4 linked regions of the Homo sapiens genome follow. The protein of the gene in region 1 purifies or fractionates together with the protein of each later gene. This does not show direct contact. Each region holds a gene or a part of one and is shown on either strand. Other genes may lie near its edges.

Region 1 (6,252 bases):
AGGCCCCTGGCCAACAGCCACCATCAGCTGCTGGGTGAGTGGGCAAGTCCTCAGACCACTTAAACCCCAGCCTTCAAGTCTTCCTGCTAAGGCACAGGCACTGGGGAGCAGAAACAGGCCACCTCACTGTGCTCACTCTGAATTCCTGGCCCATAGGATCCATGGGCACAAGAAATGGTGGTTCTACACCAGTGAATTGTGGGACGATTTGTTCTCTAGACATAGTAACCGGGACAGGGAGTCCCTGCTGCACAGAGAGGTCAAGTCACTCACTTAAGACGGTTCTCATTTCATGACAGTTCAGTATGTGCAGACCACTGTGCTAAGTTCTCGGCAGGTATTATCTACAGAACCTTCCCAATCACCCTTTTCAAGGTAAGAATGATTTCCCCTTTGGGGAGATGAGAAGCAGAGGCTCAGAGAGCAAATGACTTGCCCAGGGCCACAAACCTCTTAAGCGGCGAGCCAGACACATGATTTTGTTTAATCTTTCCCTCCACTCTATGAGGTAGGGATGATTATCCCATCTTTGAAACCTACAAAATGATGCTCAAAGGGTGACAATTCTCCTTCCCCCAGACCTGACTCCACTCACCTAGAAAACAGTGGGGACGCAGCTGAAATCCAGAACCCAAAAGCCCATGTTCTTCACCTGGTGCCAATTTATACAACGAAAACGCAAAACCGGACTGGGTTCTTGGGGCAGCAGGTCAGAACATTCTTGTAGATTTAAATCTGGAAGCTGATGTTGGGTGTGGAACCACGGCAAGAGAGTCTTTTAACCATGTGCCACCCCCGGTTCTGACACCGTCACCAGCCTGGTCTAGGCCACCATCTCTCCCTTGTGCTACTGCAGCAGCCTCCTAACTAGACTTTCGGCTTCTACGCTTGTCCCTACAATCTATTTTCAACCCAGTAGCTTGACGGATCCACTTAAAATCTAAGTCAGACCCTGTCTGTGTCCCTGCCCTGGCCCATATGGTGGGTCGGACACGGTGGCTCACGCCTGTGATCCCAGCACTTTGGGAGGCCGAGGTGGGCGGATCACGTGAGGTTAGGAGTTCCAGACCAGCCTGGACAACATGGTGAAACCCCGTCTCTACTAAAAAAGTACAAAAAAAAAAATCAGCCGGGCGTGGTGGTGGGCACCCGTAATCCCAGCTACTTGGGAGGCTGAGGCGCAAGAGTCGCTTGAACCTGGGAGGCAGAGGTTGCAATGAGCCAAGATTGCACCGCTGCACTCCAGCCTGGGCAACAGAGCAAGACTCAGTCTCATAAATAAACAAATAAATAAATAAAATGTAAGTCAGACCCTGTCCCTCCTCTACTCAAAACCGTATGGTGGATTTCATTTTAGACAGAATAAATGCTGAAATTCCTACCATGGCCCAGGAGCCCCCTGTATGATCTGCCACTTCCCTGTTCCCTCTCTGACCTCTCCCACCTCTCCCCTTGCTCACGCTGAGTCAGCCACAACAGCTTCGGTGCTTTTCCCCAATCGTGACAAGAACGTTTCTTCCCCAAGACCTTTGCACCTGCTCTCCCATCTGCCTGGAACGCTGTCCCCCTAAGAGTGCACACAGTTAACTTCCTCATCACATTCTTTAGCTCTCTGTTCAAATGTCACCTTCTCAGAGACCTTCTTGGACACGATTTTACTGTGTTTTTTCTTTTCTTTTTTTTGAGATGGAGTTTGGCTCTTTTCGCCCAGGCTGGAGTGCAATGGCACGATCTCGGCTTACTGCAAACTCTGCCTCCCGAGTTCAAGTGATTCTCCTGCCTCAGCCTCCCATGTAGTTGGGATTACAGATGCGTGTCACCACGCCTGGCTAATTTTATATTTTTAGTAGAGATGGGGTTTCACCATGTTGGCCAGGCTGGTCTTAAACTCCTGACCTCAGGTGATCCCCCTCAGCCTCCCAAAGTCCTGGGATTACAGGCTCGAGCCACCGTGCCTGGCCCTGGACACCATTTTACTAATAGCATGTTTTATCCTCCTTACCTTGCTTTATTTTTCTTCACAGTGCTTGTCACTACCTGACATACTCTGACTTACTAGAATGTAAGCTTCATGATGGCGGGGACTTTTCCCTGCCTTGTTTGCCACAGTGTGCCCAGAGCCTCAAACAGGCCTGGCACAGAGCAAATGCTGGGTCTACGTCTGCTGAGTGAATAAATCATTGTCTCCTTTGCAAAAGAAAATGTGCCAAGAAGGTGGGTGGGGGGGGTCCCCAGCTGTGTCAGTACACATTCATCTCTCAGGCAAATCTAGACATCCAGCCAGAGACTCAAAGCTCAGGGCCGGAATTATCTAGCTGGATGGTCCCTAAAAAAGACGTGCCACTTAGAAGCAGATCAGTACAGGGGTTAAGAGGATAAACTTGGGAAATAATCTGCCTGGGTTTGGATCTTGCTTCTGCCATGTATTGCATGATGGACAGAGTTTTGCTATGTCACCCAGGTTGGAGAGCAGTGGCACGACCTCAGCTCACTTGCAACCTCCGCTTCCTGGGTTCAAGCGATTCTCCCTGCCTCAACCTCCCGAGTAGCTGGGATTACAGGCGCATGCCACCATGCCCGGCTAATTTTTTTATTTTTAGTAGAGATGGGGTTTCACCATGTTGGCCAGGCTGGTCTCGAACTCCTGAACCCAGGTGATCCGCCCACCTCGGTCTCCTAAAGTGCTGGGACTACAGGCGGGAGCCACCGTGCCCAGCCAAATTTTTTGGATTTTAGAACCTATTACATATTACAACACCGGCGAGATCCAGGGGCAACTCTCCATAAGTATATGATTTGCACAACAAAATCTTTAAAAATTCTAAATAGTCACACATCAGTTCAGAGTGGGTATTGCCAGCAAACAAGTTCAAAGCCAGGTGAGGTTGGCCTGCCAAGTAAGTTGCAAAACAGAGAAAAAGACCTTTCAGTTTTCAGAACGTTTTGGATTTTAAAGTTATAGATAAGGGACTGCAGACCTGTAAATATTCTTTAACATTTCTTTTTTAGTGTCTGGCATCCCCAACCACCCTGAGAATGTGAATTAGCTGGGCAGGATTTTTGTTTTAGACACTGCTATAATAACCTGGGCTTGAACAGTGCCTATTAGACTAGCACCGTTCAAACCCAGGTTATAGTAGTGTAATATCGGTTGCACGGAGCCTTCCATATAGTAAACGCTCAATAAAATTGGATGTGCTGAAGTCACCTATGCAATGGCCAGGTCAGGACTTGAAACCCTAAGACTCCAACCCTCAGGCCAGTCTTTATCTTAATTTATTTGACTTATTCAACAAATGTTTAGGGAACAGCTGCTATGCGTCAACTACTGTATAGTGTTCCTCCTAGAAAGTTCAGGAAACAGCACAGCAAAAAGGCTAAAAGTCAGACCCCACCTCAGCGCAGGTGGGGCGATTGCCTAGGCGACGACAGAGCCTCCCTTCGGCCGCACCTCCATAGAAACCACGGGATGACTTAGACGCCAAGTTTCACAGCGGAGGAGCTGTCGAACTTCCCACAAGTTCCGCCCATCTCCGCCTTAGCCATGCCCAACACGGAGCCCAAGGTGGCTTGGGAAGCTCAAGAGGAGGCCAGTGAACCCCGCGACCCGGAGCCGCTCTCATTCCGAACCCCGACAGCAGGGGCCTCCGCCTCCCACAAACGGTCGTGCTGACGTCACGGACGCCCCGGCCGAGCTGCGGCTAGGGGGTCGGGGGACGTCCCCTCGTTCGCCTCGCTTCCCCTCACCTCTGTACTTGGGGACTGGGGTGGGATTCTGGGCTTCTGCAGCCTGACCCTCGGATCCTCCGCAGTTACCCGGACTCACCTTCTCAGTTGCCCAGCGAAAACTTCCGCTGGGCGGAGAGCGCTGCGCGCGCATCCTGAATCTGAGGCGCCCGCGCAGGCGCCGCTGACTTCCTGACGGCCCCTGGGCTTCGCCTGCCTGGGAACTCCGTTTCCCAGATGCCTCCGCGGCAGGCCCGCCCTCTGATTCCAGACGGAATGGGGATTATTCCCTCATTGCTCATCCCCCTCCCCTCCGTTCTAGCCGCTTTGGAACGCCTTCTGGTTCTACTGCGCATGTGTCAGTGTCAGACCAATCGGAATGCACCGTGAGGTACCTCTCCACCAATCAGAGGTCACATTACCTAAACTTCTGCCTCAACTCCGCCCCTTACTTCCGCTTGTTTTCTCAGAAACCCGTCACAACGCGTTTCCATGGCAACCTACCGCTTGCTCTTCGGAAAAGGTTAACACTCCCTGACTTCTAGTAAAGGCAAGAAGCTAATTAGATGATTCTTTAACAAGGTAAAAATCTGGACTACAAACTGATGCCGCCTGGTCCTGATTCTCTTTCTACTCTACTCCCACAGTGCTAAGGCTGAAGAAGCAGGAGGAGATGGGAAGGCGAAAGAAGTCGCCCGCACAGCCCTCTGGGAAATAGAGTCCTGGCGCTGCCGCGGAGGATCCTGGGTGCAGCCGCTCAGAGAAGCTTCTCGCGCACAGGAAGTCGCTGCGAGGAGGCGCGTGTGCGGGGAGTTGAATCTCCCGCTCCCTTGAGGCTGGGGTTGCGTCTGTTGACGCGGCCGACTACAATCCCGAGGTACGGAGACGCTGGGGCTGAGGGACTTGCGGGCTCGGTCCTTCCTGAGAGGTGACGGAATGCAAGTGGGGGCGACTTCGGCAAAGGGTGCGTCGCCTTGGGCGGCGGTTGTCAGGGTGAAGGTGTGAACCGTCTTTCACAGTCTGTTATGAAAACCGCTCAAGGTCTGGGCACGGTAGATCACGCCTGTAATCCCAGCACTTTGGGAAGCCTTGGCGGGGGGGATCACTTACAGCCAGGAGTTCCTCGAACCCCCAGTCTCTACTAAAAATACAAAAATTAGTTGAGCGTGGTGGCGGGGGCCTGTAATCCCAGCTACTCAGGAGGCTGAGGCAGGAGAATCGCTTGAACCCAGGAGCTGGAGGTTGCAGTGAGCCGAGATCGCGCCATTGCACTCCAGCCTGGGTGACAGAGCGAGACTACATCTTAAAAAAAAAAAAAAAAAAAGAAAGGAAGAAAACCACCTTGGGAGGCTGAGGTGGGCGGATCGCTTGAGCCCAGGATTTCGAGGCTAGCCTGGGCCAGATGGTGAAGCCCTGTCTCCACAAAAGAAGAAAAAAATAGAAAAATTAGCCGGGCGTGGTGGTGCGCCCCTGTATTCCTAGCTAATTGGGAGGCCGAGGTGGGAGGATTGCTTGAACCCAGGAGGCAGAGGTTGCAGTGAGCTGAGAAAGAAAAGAAAAGAAAAGAAAACTGCTAAAGGGGTTTCCAGGCCTCCCTGATGGCCCTGAGAGGAGTGGTTCTGTTTTATTTTGGTTTTGGTTGGGGAAGGAGGGGAATGAGTTACCTGAAGTTGGCAAATTTAGGCAGAATCTTGCTGGACGATGGATGGGAGTTCTTCGGGAAGTTGAAGTACTTAACATTTACAGTATTTGAGTGCTTTCTGTGTGCCAGGCGCCCTGCTGGAGTTGCATTTCCTCTTCTGATCCCCGCAGCAGCACTGAGACATAAGTGCAGGTCCCCTTGGCACCAAGGCAATCTCGGGAATCAGAATTTTTCAGATTTTAGAAAGCTAATAGGGTGCATATTTTATAATTAGGCAGCACCCCCCCACACCCCGAGGAATCTGGGCCAGTTTTTGGTCATAAAATGTTTCTGTGGGGCAAGGTGTGAATATTCACACTTATGAGAACATTAAGACCCTACATGGCCTGTGGCAATCCAGGTGAAGTTTTGCGGTCAGTTTATAAATCAAGTTCTGGTTTTTGGAGCATTTAAAGGACCATAGATCTGTTGTATTTGTTCCATTTGGTACATGTGGAAACTAAGGCTTAGAGAAGGTAAATGGTCTGGAAGGAAGGGCAAGACTCTTGGGCCCAAGGTCTCTCAGCCTGATAATTGTTTGGCTTAAGTCACTCTGGGCTGGATGACCTTGGGCTCCACCTCTGGGCCCTCGTTTCTTTCCTCCCAGAGCTGAGAGTATATGAGATGTGGGCAGAATGTGATTTGGTAACTGCAGACAGGGATCTCAAGCTCAGCTGTCTGTGAGGGCCAGGCAGATGACATACAGGAAAGAAGAGAACTGGTCCAGGTGAGGCTGCGGGGCCTTGGGGAGCACTTGCCTCATCTGAAGGGGAGAATTGTGTTTTTTTTTTGATGACAGAGTCTCGCTCTGTCACCCAGGCTGGAGTTCGGTCTCACTGGAACCT
Region 2 (3,500 bases), on another chromosome or scaffold:
AATGTTTTCACTTCCTCTGTTCCAGGTCTCCTGATGGTGTTGCATTACTAGCGTGGTGCATGTGTCCCCTCTCCAGTGCTTATGTAAAGAAATGAAAGTATTCAGGGAAAGCTGTGCTTTGTTGGAGGACCGCGTTGTGGATTTGGCCACCTTGTCACTTGAAGTCGTGTTAGGGGTGCTTCAGCAGGATGTGGCCGGATGCCTTTCATGATGATGCTGCACAGCAGCAACTGTTGCTCTTTCTGGAAGCTTTGTGGTACTACGGTGGGGGGGCTTTCCTTTGCTGTGCCGGCTCTGTACCTACTGACTGTTATTTTGGGGGGCTGGACCAAAGGAAGACTTGTCATTGATAAATGTACTGAGAAGAGCACAGGACTCCTTTAAGTCTCAAGGTGCTCTGGGCTTAGTTCTTCTGAGCAGGGAAACCAGAGGCTGGCGTTCTGTTTTCTCTTTTGTAAAATGGAAAAATACCTGCCATTGCCACTTAACTAAGTCACTGAAAAGATCATGTGCATGGAAGATGTAAAACAGTATGCCTCTTTATAAGTAAGGTGGCATTATTACTTGAGCTGGTGGAAGGCAGCACGTTTCCCACAATTGGTCTCAAAAGCCCGGGATGCCTGCTGAGTTGCCATTTAGTTTATTACCTTAGCAAAGCAGAGTTGGGGGTGCGATTGTCGATAGTAGGCTTTGGGAGAAATGATTGTTATATTTCGTAATAAATGATGTCCTTGAGAAACTCATAAGTTGCAGTGTAATCCTGTCTTAATTGTGTTGAGCACGACTCCCACTGCAATACCTTAAATAACTGAAAACATTTGCCTTTGAAAGCCCCAATCGACTTGGACAATAAAAACAGTTGCATGTTTTGCTCTAGAGATATTTTCTGCCGTTTCCATCATTCCACTGCCTGGTTATTCCTAGGGAGAATAACAGATAGGATACTGGGGCTTCACCACTATTTGATCAGGTATCAGTTTGAAATAGAGAATCTCTGCCTTATGAAGATAGTAATTCCTGTAGTTAGCATGAAAACAAATTGCCAGTTTGATTTTCTAGGACAGCTCAAGCAGAATTTGTACCACTAGGCTGTAAGTTTTAAGTATCTAATTTTCTGATTTGAAAGTGTATGATTTAAAAATTGGAAAAAGTTTTTGTTATAAGCTTCAAAAGGATTTACTATAATTACAACTACGTAAAATTACAAAGAAAAAAGTAGGAAGAACACAAAATATACAGTGGTTGGATTTATGAGGTTTTTTGTTTTAAAACTTATTCATCACAAATTGTTCAGTCACGTTATTTTACAGTTGGTGGGGTGGTGGGGAAATTTGCACGTTATTTTATTGCTGTATTTTTTCTTTCCTGGGATGTTTACGTGGCTTTTCAGTTACTTGTTTCTAGTAGTGGAAAATCTTGCTCTGTGTTACTTAGGTGCAGGGCAGTGGCAGTTTAGCTCCTATCACTGTACAGGGACAGTATGGAAGGAAGACACAATGAAGTCCAAAGTGTCACTAAAATTTGAAAGAAAAATTATGTCGACAAGTAATCCAACTTGGTTTATTATCCAGGTTATATTATTTTACAGTAGGCTAATACCTAACTTGTGTGTCCCTGTAGCCACTGGCCCAAATAGACAACTAGAATTATTTGGTACTCGGTAATGCCTGTTTCCTCATAGTGGGTTAAACCAGTCCCTGTTGCTGGGCTGAAGGCTATTGACGCACTTCCAAGTGCCTTGGAAATAACTCCAGTGTTAATATATACCGTACTCCAAATGTTAAACTTTCCTCCTTCAGAACAAGACAATCTTTTGGAGTATATAATTGGTGTCTGTTACCTTCAAAATGGAACTTTTTTTTTTTTTTCAGAGAAGACACGAGAATGTCATATTAAAAGCGTAGTTCGTTAAAACACTTGGTGAAGGCTAACCTAGAGAGCATTTGTTTTTTTGTTTCCTTTTTTTTTTGAGACAGGGTCTTGCTCAGCCACCCAGGCTGGAACGCAGTGGTTCCTCACTGCAACCACTGTCTTCCGGGTTCAATCGATTCTCCTGTCTCAGCCTCCCGAGTAGGTGGGATTACAGGCACCCCCTATCATGTCCGGCTAATTTTTGTATTTTAGTAGAGATGGAGTTTCATTTCACCATATTGGCCTAGCTGGTCTTGAACTCCTGACCTCAGGTGATCTGCCCGCCTTGGCCTCCCAAAGTGCTGGGATTACAGGCGTGAGCCACTGCACCCAGCCAGCTGAACATTTTTAAGCTAGTGGTTTGCCCTTGCTCATGATGGTGTGAGGACTCACACTCCTGACATTGTCTGAATTCTGGCTGCATTGCTCTGATCATCCTGATGTTACTGGTCCACGTCTCCCCCAGGATTACAGTAGTAGCAGCTCTACTAACCACCTTTTGTCTACCCATCCTGCTTGCCCTGTTGGCTGCAGTATGTCCTGACTGATATCCCAGGATACAGGTCCTGGCCACCTCTGGGATGTACCTCTGTCCCCTTTGGCTTTCACCCAGAAGTCTTGCCAAGTGTCAGTTGTTTGTTCCCAAATCTGGTTATTCCAGTTGGGCTTATTATTGTAATTACAGTTAAGTATTATGTCAACCTTGAAACAGTGTGAAAAAGAGCGTGGTGGCTCATGCCTGTAATCCCAGCACTTTGGGAGGCTGAGGTGGGCGGATCATGAGGGTCAGGAGTTCAAGCCCAGCCTGACCAACATGGTGAAACCCCGTCTCTACTAAAAATACAAAAATTACCCGGGCATGGTGGCGCATGCCTGTAATCCCAGCTACTCGGGAGGCTGAGGCAGCAGAATTACTTGAACCCAGGAGGCGGAGGTTGCGGTGAGCCGCTTGAACCTGGGAGGCGGAGGTTGCAGTGAGCCGCTTGAACCTGGGAGGCGGAGGTTGCAGTGAGCTGAGATCCTGCCACTGCGTTCCAGCCTGGGCAAAAGAGTGAGACTCCATTCAAAAAAAAATGTGGGCCAGACATTTTTAAGATGTTTGGGAAAATCTGAAAGGACTGTCCACACACATTGCTTTGCAAGTGATTCCCTTTTAAGAACCAAACTTCAGTTATGCCCAGACTTCCCCAACAATCAAAACAGCATAATGTAGAACAACAGAACGTTCAGAGACTTAAGCTCAGAAAGAAGACCCATGGCCTCATATCAAAAAAACCGTAATTAAAAGTAGATTTGTCTGTCAGTTAATACAAAATGTTAGGGAATACCTTTTTTTTTTAAAAATTGTTTGTTATCTAACAAACTTGTTCCCATTAACTAACCAACTTCTGGTTCTTGTCATCTCTGATAAGAGTGCTTCCAACTGTGTTTAGCCTTAATCCCCGCATGCTAAACTGGACTCCCTGTCTGCTTCATGCCATGTAACATGTAAAGTGTGGATCAGTTTAAAGTAGTCCTACTGAGGTGATTGTATTACTTTTGGAGTTAAAATAATTGTGCCATTTACTGAGTGGCAGGGAGCAGAAAGA
Region 3 (2,584 bases), on another chromosome or scaffold:
TATTTACAAAGAAAACTTTTATGTCACTGCTATAAAGTTTCCCCAGTGGGCTGGGGCCTGGCATGGCCTAGGAGGAGAGGAGAGGAGAGGAGGGGTCTCTGGGCTTGGTAGGAGTCCATGCTCCTCCAGGTGGGCTGGCACGGGGGAACAGGGAGCAGCCTGAGCCAGGTGCTTTCTTTAGCGCCTCTGTGTTCCTCCAGGAGAAGCAAACCAAGCCAGCAGAAGCGCCCCGGCTGCAGCTGTCTTCAGGCTTCGCTTGGAATGTGGGACTAGACTCTCTGACCCCGGCCTTGCCACCTCTAGCAGAGAGCTCAGACAGCGAGGAGGATGAGAAGCCACACCAAGCCACGGTGCTGTATTTTGCAGGGCATGTCCTTTTTGCAGGGACCCCTTGGTGTCAGTCTCTTGTGCTCTGTTCCTAGACTGGGTGTCTTCCTGGGTGAGTGGGGGAGGGGGCAGCGGCCAGTCCCAGGCCAGGGGGTATATATAGAGCCCTGGGCTGCCCAGCCAACTCGTGACTTCCACCACAGACCTCCCCTAGGCCTTGAGGAGCAGATGACTCACGGTGTTTCTGCTTTCCATAGCAGATAAAGAAAAGCAAGAAAGAAAGGGAGTTGGAGAAGCAGAAGGCAGAGAAGGAACTGTCCCGCATTGAGGAGGCGCTGATGGATCCTGGGCGGCAGCCAGAGTCCGCGGATGATTTTGACCGACTGGTGCTGAGCTCCCCCAACAGCTCCATTCTGTGGCTGCAGTACATGGCTTTCCACCTGCAGGCCACGGAGATCGAGAAGGCCCGTGCCGTGGCTGAGAGGGCCCTTAAGACCATCTCCTTCAGGTCTCAGCTTTGCCCCAGGGAGCACAGTGTCTTCGCACGTTCTGGGCTGGGAAGTTTCTCAACCTGTGGGGTAGCTCCTCCTAGGCAGGCCGGCAGCATTTTGGGTGGCTGCCACCAGGGGCCCATGGGTCCTCAGGCTTTCTGCCATAGCTGCGGCCATCTGTGAAATAGATCTACTCATTTATATTTTATAGTCTTCTTCCCTGAAACTGCTAAGGGTAACCTTCACAAGAGTCCATACACTTATATGAGGGAACCAGTTTGAGCAGAAACACAGTAAGAAAAGAACTCACTACATACCTGGGCGAAATCCCTGTGGTGGTTTTCCAAACAGAGGGAGTTTTTGAGGCCTAATGAAGAGGGAAGGCAGTCCTTTGCTTCATCCTCTTAGCTTGAAGAGAGAATCAGACCCAGGACTCTGCGTCCAGCCCAAACCTCAGGCCCGTTTGGGATCTGGTGGGCATCCTTTCTAGGAATGGAGGCAGAATCCAGGAGAGCCTCAGACTCAGCCATTGGGGTTGGGGCAGGGGTTTCTAATGCTGCAGGAGCTGTGGGGACACAGCCTCTTAGGGTCTACATTTGGGGTGGGATCTGAGGACACAGATAGAGGCTGGGAGGGGGAGGTGGTTCCTGAGTCTGTCTGGATGGGGCGGGAGGCTCACTGGTTTCATGTGGCGCTCATGTGCTGACTGCTCTCCCTCCAGAGAGGAGCAGGAGAAGCTGAACGTGTGGGTGGCTCTGCTGAACCTGGAGAACATGTACGGCTCTCAGGAGTCCCTGACCAAGGTCTTTGAGCGAGCCGTGCAGTACAACGAGCCTCTCAAAGTCTTTCTCCACCTGGCTGACATCTACGCCAAGTCAGAGAAATTCCAGGTAGGAGGTTGGGCCACAGACGAACTCCTGGGAGTTCCAGGGCCACAATCTCAGAGAAGAGCCCCTGGGGTGCTGGGTCCAGTCCTGCTGTGAGCTTGCCACCCAACATCGGGGCCCCAACTTCCCTATCTTCCAAGTAAAAGAAGTCATTTCCCTCACCTCTTCTTCAGGCCTGTGGGGTCAAGGTGAGGGAAGGAGTGGCTTTGGAAGTGAAGGGGCAGTGGACCCCTGGTGTGTCTGCCTTGGGCTGCTGGCAGGGCATCACAGACAGAAGGGGACGTCCCGGCCCAGCATCCGCTCTGGCGTCTCTCCTACTCCCCCTTGTCATTCTCATGTTCTAGGCTAGGACCGCCCTCCCATGGGTGCGGATCAGCAGGGAATCCCCTCCGTCGTGTTGTGCCTGTTCACGGTGCCCTTCTGTGAGCCTCCCTCCCGCTCCTCTCAGGTCTCTAGCATTAGGCCCTGAGAGTGATTTGGTGTCTGGGAGCCCAGGTCTAGCTTCTTGTGAGTGTTGCTGCTTGTCTGTCTTGTCCCCTCTGTAGTATCACACTCTCCTCAGCGTGCCTCGTCTTTTCCCACAGGAAGCTGGTGAACTCTACAACCGGATGCTGAAGCGTTTCCGGCAGGAGAAAGCTGTGTGGATCAAATACGGCGCCTTCCTTCTGCGGAGGAGCCAGGCTGCAGCCAGTCACCGCGTGCTGCAGCGAGCCCTGGAGTGCCTGCCTAGCAAGGAGCGTGAGTGCTCATTCCCAGCTCCTGAGCCCATGAGCACTCCAGGATCGGGGAGTAGGAACTGGCTGTGGCATTGCTTCTTCTAAGTCAGGAGAGCCTTGTGAGGGCTTTCCTCTTGCTGCCTGTTGATTCTCTGCCCCTCAG
Region 4 (3,500 bases), on another chromosome or scaffold:
TTTGTTTCTATCTTGTGTCAGCAATTAGAAAACTCTAGTGCCCCAAGTCCTGGGAGAAGAAATTTCATTAATTGGGCCTAAGCCTACCTGTTTTGCAGACCCCATGGGCCTAGTGATGGTCTGGGATGCCTGGCTCTAGGCCCTTCATGAATCAGACTACAGCCATCCCCCCCAACTCCCTGCCTCCACTTCCCAAAATCAAAACACCCCCTGACAGCACAGCAGCCCCTGACCCTGAACCCAGATCACGTTACTGGCTCTAGATAAAGTAGCAGCAAGAGAGGTGCATTTATTAATTTTTTCTAGCAGATATCTATGGAGTATGCAGTATGTGCCAGGCATTGTGCTAGGCTGGGGATAGAATGGTGAGTTCAACCCAGTCTCTGCCTGCAAGGAGCTCATAGATTAGTTGAAAAGAAGAGGCCTCCTCAGTGTGGTGAGTACTAAGTTAGGAGAGATGGTGAGGGCACCCACAAGAAGCTTTGCTCAAGCAGCCCTGGAGGGATGAGGAGGGTTCCTGAAGAAAGGGCATGTACATGGAGGTGGGGAAATTGCATGGATGTGGGGCAGAAGGCAGGGATAGGGGAGGGCATTCCAGGTAGAGGGCTAGCTATGCAAGGCTGGAGGCAAGAGAAAGCAGGAGGAAGCCCCATGGTTGGGCAGTGCCAGGGAGATGAACCTGGGGGATGAGGCAAGGACAAGCTCCTGAAGGGCCTCAGAAGCAGGTGAGCGAAAGAACTCAGGACTTTACCCCAAAAGCCGTGATGTGCAATGAAGCATCTCAATTGCTGGAGGAAGCACTAGGATGTTCAGGCAGGCCCAGGCTCAGTCCTAGTTCAGGATTTGGAGGCACAGAAAGAAAGGTAAGACTCAGCCCCTAACTTCAGGAAACTCACTGATGGGCAGATACCATGCACTGTGTTGGGAAACAACCAAGCTGTGCATGATGCATGCCCATGGCACACGAATGCTAAGATTTGAAGGCATGATGGGAGCTATCATTTATTGAGTGCACTCTGTATGCCAGGTTCTGCAGAAGGAACCTAATATCACATCTCACTCAGTCCTCAAGGAAACCTATAGTGTGCCTGTTACCACCCCCGTGTGACAGATGGAAAGACCACGGCTTAAAGAGGTTAACTTCACAGCGTCAATAACCAGGAAAGGATGGCACCAGAATGAGCTCAGCCGGTGATCTTCCTCCTACTCTATTCAGCCTTCCCTAAGTGTGGGCCAAAGGTTGTAGAAAAGGCTTCACGGATTAGGAAGGGACTGGCGAGTTAGAATGTTGTTCCCTGTGTCCCACTGTCATCTCTCAGGCTCTGCAGTGGGGGCCAGGAGCCTGACATTTAGGCATTAGGGGAGGCAGGGATGACTGAGGATCAGGATAAACAAGTGTCTCTGAGAGCCTGCCCCTCAGAATCTTTAAGTCGAGTCCAGTGCCTGCTCTGTGCGGGAGGTAGCAGCTTTTCAAAGAATAAAATCAGCGAGTAAAGAATATAATCTGCAGTTCTTTGCAAATTTGACGATGCTGTGCTGCCTACATACCATTAATAGGGGATGGGTTTTCCCAGAGATGTTTGCTTTGGAAAACTCCCAAGCCTCTACTGTTAACAGTTAGAGATTGCACATAGTGGGGATGGTTATTTGAATTAGAAATGGGTAACTCACATGCACCTGAAATGTCTCCAAGTAAAGTAGGGTAGGGGCCAAGTTGTATAAGGAGATGGGTGAGCCAAGTCTGTAACGATCATGAAGAATGGCATACTCTCTCAAATGCCACAGATGATTCTGGAACCTCAAGAATCTCAGAGCTGAGCTAAATGGCTCTCCAAGATAGCCCACCATGGAGCTAAGGTCCTCTGGAATGACACCACTAGCAGTATTGACTGAGCCTGGTTCCCTGATTCACAACAGCAAGTCGTGAAATTCAGACATCCTGTAGGATCTAGCTTTACCACTATGCTCAGTTGACCTCAAGAAATGAAACCAGCTTCCATGATTAACAGACACTAATGACCAACAGGTGAAACACAATCAGGTAAATGGGGAGAGCCAGTGCCAGAGGGCTTACAGATTTTCTGAAGTTCTTCATACACAGGTTCCCCTCATTAGCAGCCATCTGGGAGGGAGCTGGGGATGATTCTGAAACCTGGAGAATCCCGGTCACTATATCATACATTAGTTGAAAAGAGGGAGCCTCCTCAGTGTGGTGAGTGCCAAGTTAGGAGAGATGGTGAAGGCATCTCCTGCCTACACGCCTTGTACAGCCAGCCCTCTGCCTGGATTATACCGGTCTACCACATACCTGGGCAAGGCTCGTCCTTAGTGACGTTACAAATGGAATATTCTTCTTGCCCTATTCCTTGACTCTCTTTTTCTCCTTACTGCCACCCCTACTACTCCATTATCCCCTTCGGCTCCAGCTCCCCCGGCGTGGATGCTCCTGGCTTGCCTTCTGGGATGATACCCAGGGCTTCCCTAATTGTTGCCACAGCCTACCCAGCCCGCTCCTCCCTCTGGACTGACTCACTTCGCCAGGCACAGAGGGCCCATAGCCTGCAATCCTCCCCAGTCAGTGAATCCCTCCCCCTTCCACAGAGATCTTCAGAAGAGGTGTCGCCACACCCTTTGCCCAGGCGCCACCCTCCCGCGTCAGTGTGCGTCACCGTGGGGATGGTCTTTGTTGTTTCCCTCTCAAGCAGGGCCCTCCTTTTCCTCTTGTTCTGTACACACTGGAGAGGGAGAACAGATGGTCCTCCTGCCGGGGGCCAGCCCTCCTGGCAGAGGTGACCAAACCACCCGGCTTTCCCATCTCAGGGGCATCATGGACACCCCTCAGCTATAGGTTCTGTTTCTGGGGATCCCTTGGGTTTTCTGTGTGTCCCCCCCTTCCCCCTTCCAAGGTCTCTGAGACCTGCTGACCTATGCAGCTCAAGCCCAGAGAGAAGACACCAGGCAGGACTGGTGGTGCTAAAAGATGGTAGAAATCAGTTTGTCCCTCCTCCGTGCTGTTTGTGATTTTGATTTCAACCTGGGACGAGTTGAAAACAGTCCCCCGCGCAGCTCACCCGGCCCACGTTACCCACTATCTTCCCGGACTCACAGCTGTCTCCACCCATGCTTGCCTACTGGCAGGCCTTTCCGGCTTTATTTTGCCTAGTGGTGTTACCAAAATGTCTCCTGGTTGAACTTGACTCTTGTTATATCTTCCAATTTCTCCCGTGTCCAGATTTCCAGACCTTACCCACTGTGGAAGGCATCACACTGAAGCCCAGACATGAGTTCTGGGTCTGCTCTTACCCAGTCCAGTGACCCTGGGAAAGTCAACAAACCTCTCTGAGCCAGTTTCCTCATCTGCAGGATCAGGATGTTACCAGCCTGTTCTGAGGATCAAATGAGCGAATAAATGCAAAGATTCTTTGTAAACTGTAAACCAACATTCTCCAAACTGCATTCTGCAGACCCTGCTCTCAGGAGAGGTGTTCATAAACTATTTA

What was found.
Region 2: the proteins of VRK3 (region 1) and JARID2 purify together in Homo sapiens (affinity purification with mass spectrometry, with the first as the bait; one large-scale study listed by BioGRID). This does not show direct contact.
Region 3: the proteins of VRK3 (region 1) and PDCD11 purify together in Homo sapiens (affinity purification with mass spectrometry; one large-scale study listed by BioGRID and IntAct). This does not show direct contact.
Region 4: the proteins of VRK3 (region 1) and PRKCE purify together in Homo sapiens (affinity purification with mass spectrometry; one large-scale study listed by BioGRID and IntAct). This does not show direct contact.

What each region holds. Positions count from the first base shown.
Region 1 is NC_000019.10:50,021,520-50,027,771, forward strand, and holds the start of VRK3 (serine/threonine-protein kinase VRK3), read right to left. Parts: upstream 3,854-6,252; 5' UTR 3,748-3,853; exon of another isoform or gene 3,396-3,747; intron 1-3,395. UniProt on the Homo sapiens protein: Plays a role in the regulation of the cell cycle by phosphorylating the nuclear envelope protein barrier-to-autointegration factor/BAF that is required for disassembly and reassembly, respectively, of the nuclear envelope during mitosis.
Region 2 is NC_000006.12:15,249,069-15,252,568, forward strand, and holds part of JARID2 (protein Jumonji), read left to right. Parts: intron 1-3,500.
Region 3 is NC_000010.11:103,441,626-103,444,209, forward strand, and holds part of PDCD11 (protein RRP5 homolog), read left to right. Parts: intron 1-200; coding exon 201-350; intron 351-584; coding exon of another isoform or gene 585-587; coding exon 588-835; intron 836-1,539; coding exon 1,540-1,708; intron 1,709-2,289; coding exon 2,290-2,443; intron 2,444-2,584. UniProt on the Homo sapiens protein: Essential for the generation of mature 18S rRNA, specifically necessary for cleavages at sites A0, 1 and 2 of the 47S precursor. Directly interacts with U3 snoRNA. Involved in the biogenesis of rRNA.
Region 4 is NC_000002.12:46,179,675-46,183,174, forward strand, and holds part of PRKCE (protein kinase C epsilon type), read left to right. Parts: intron 1-3,500.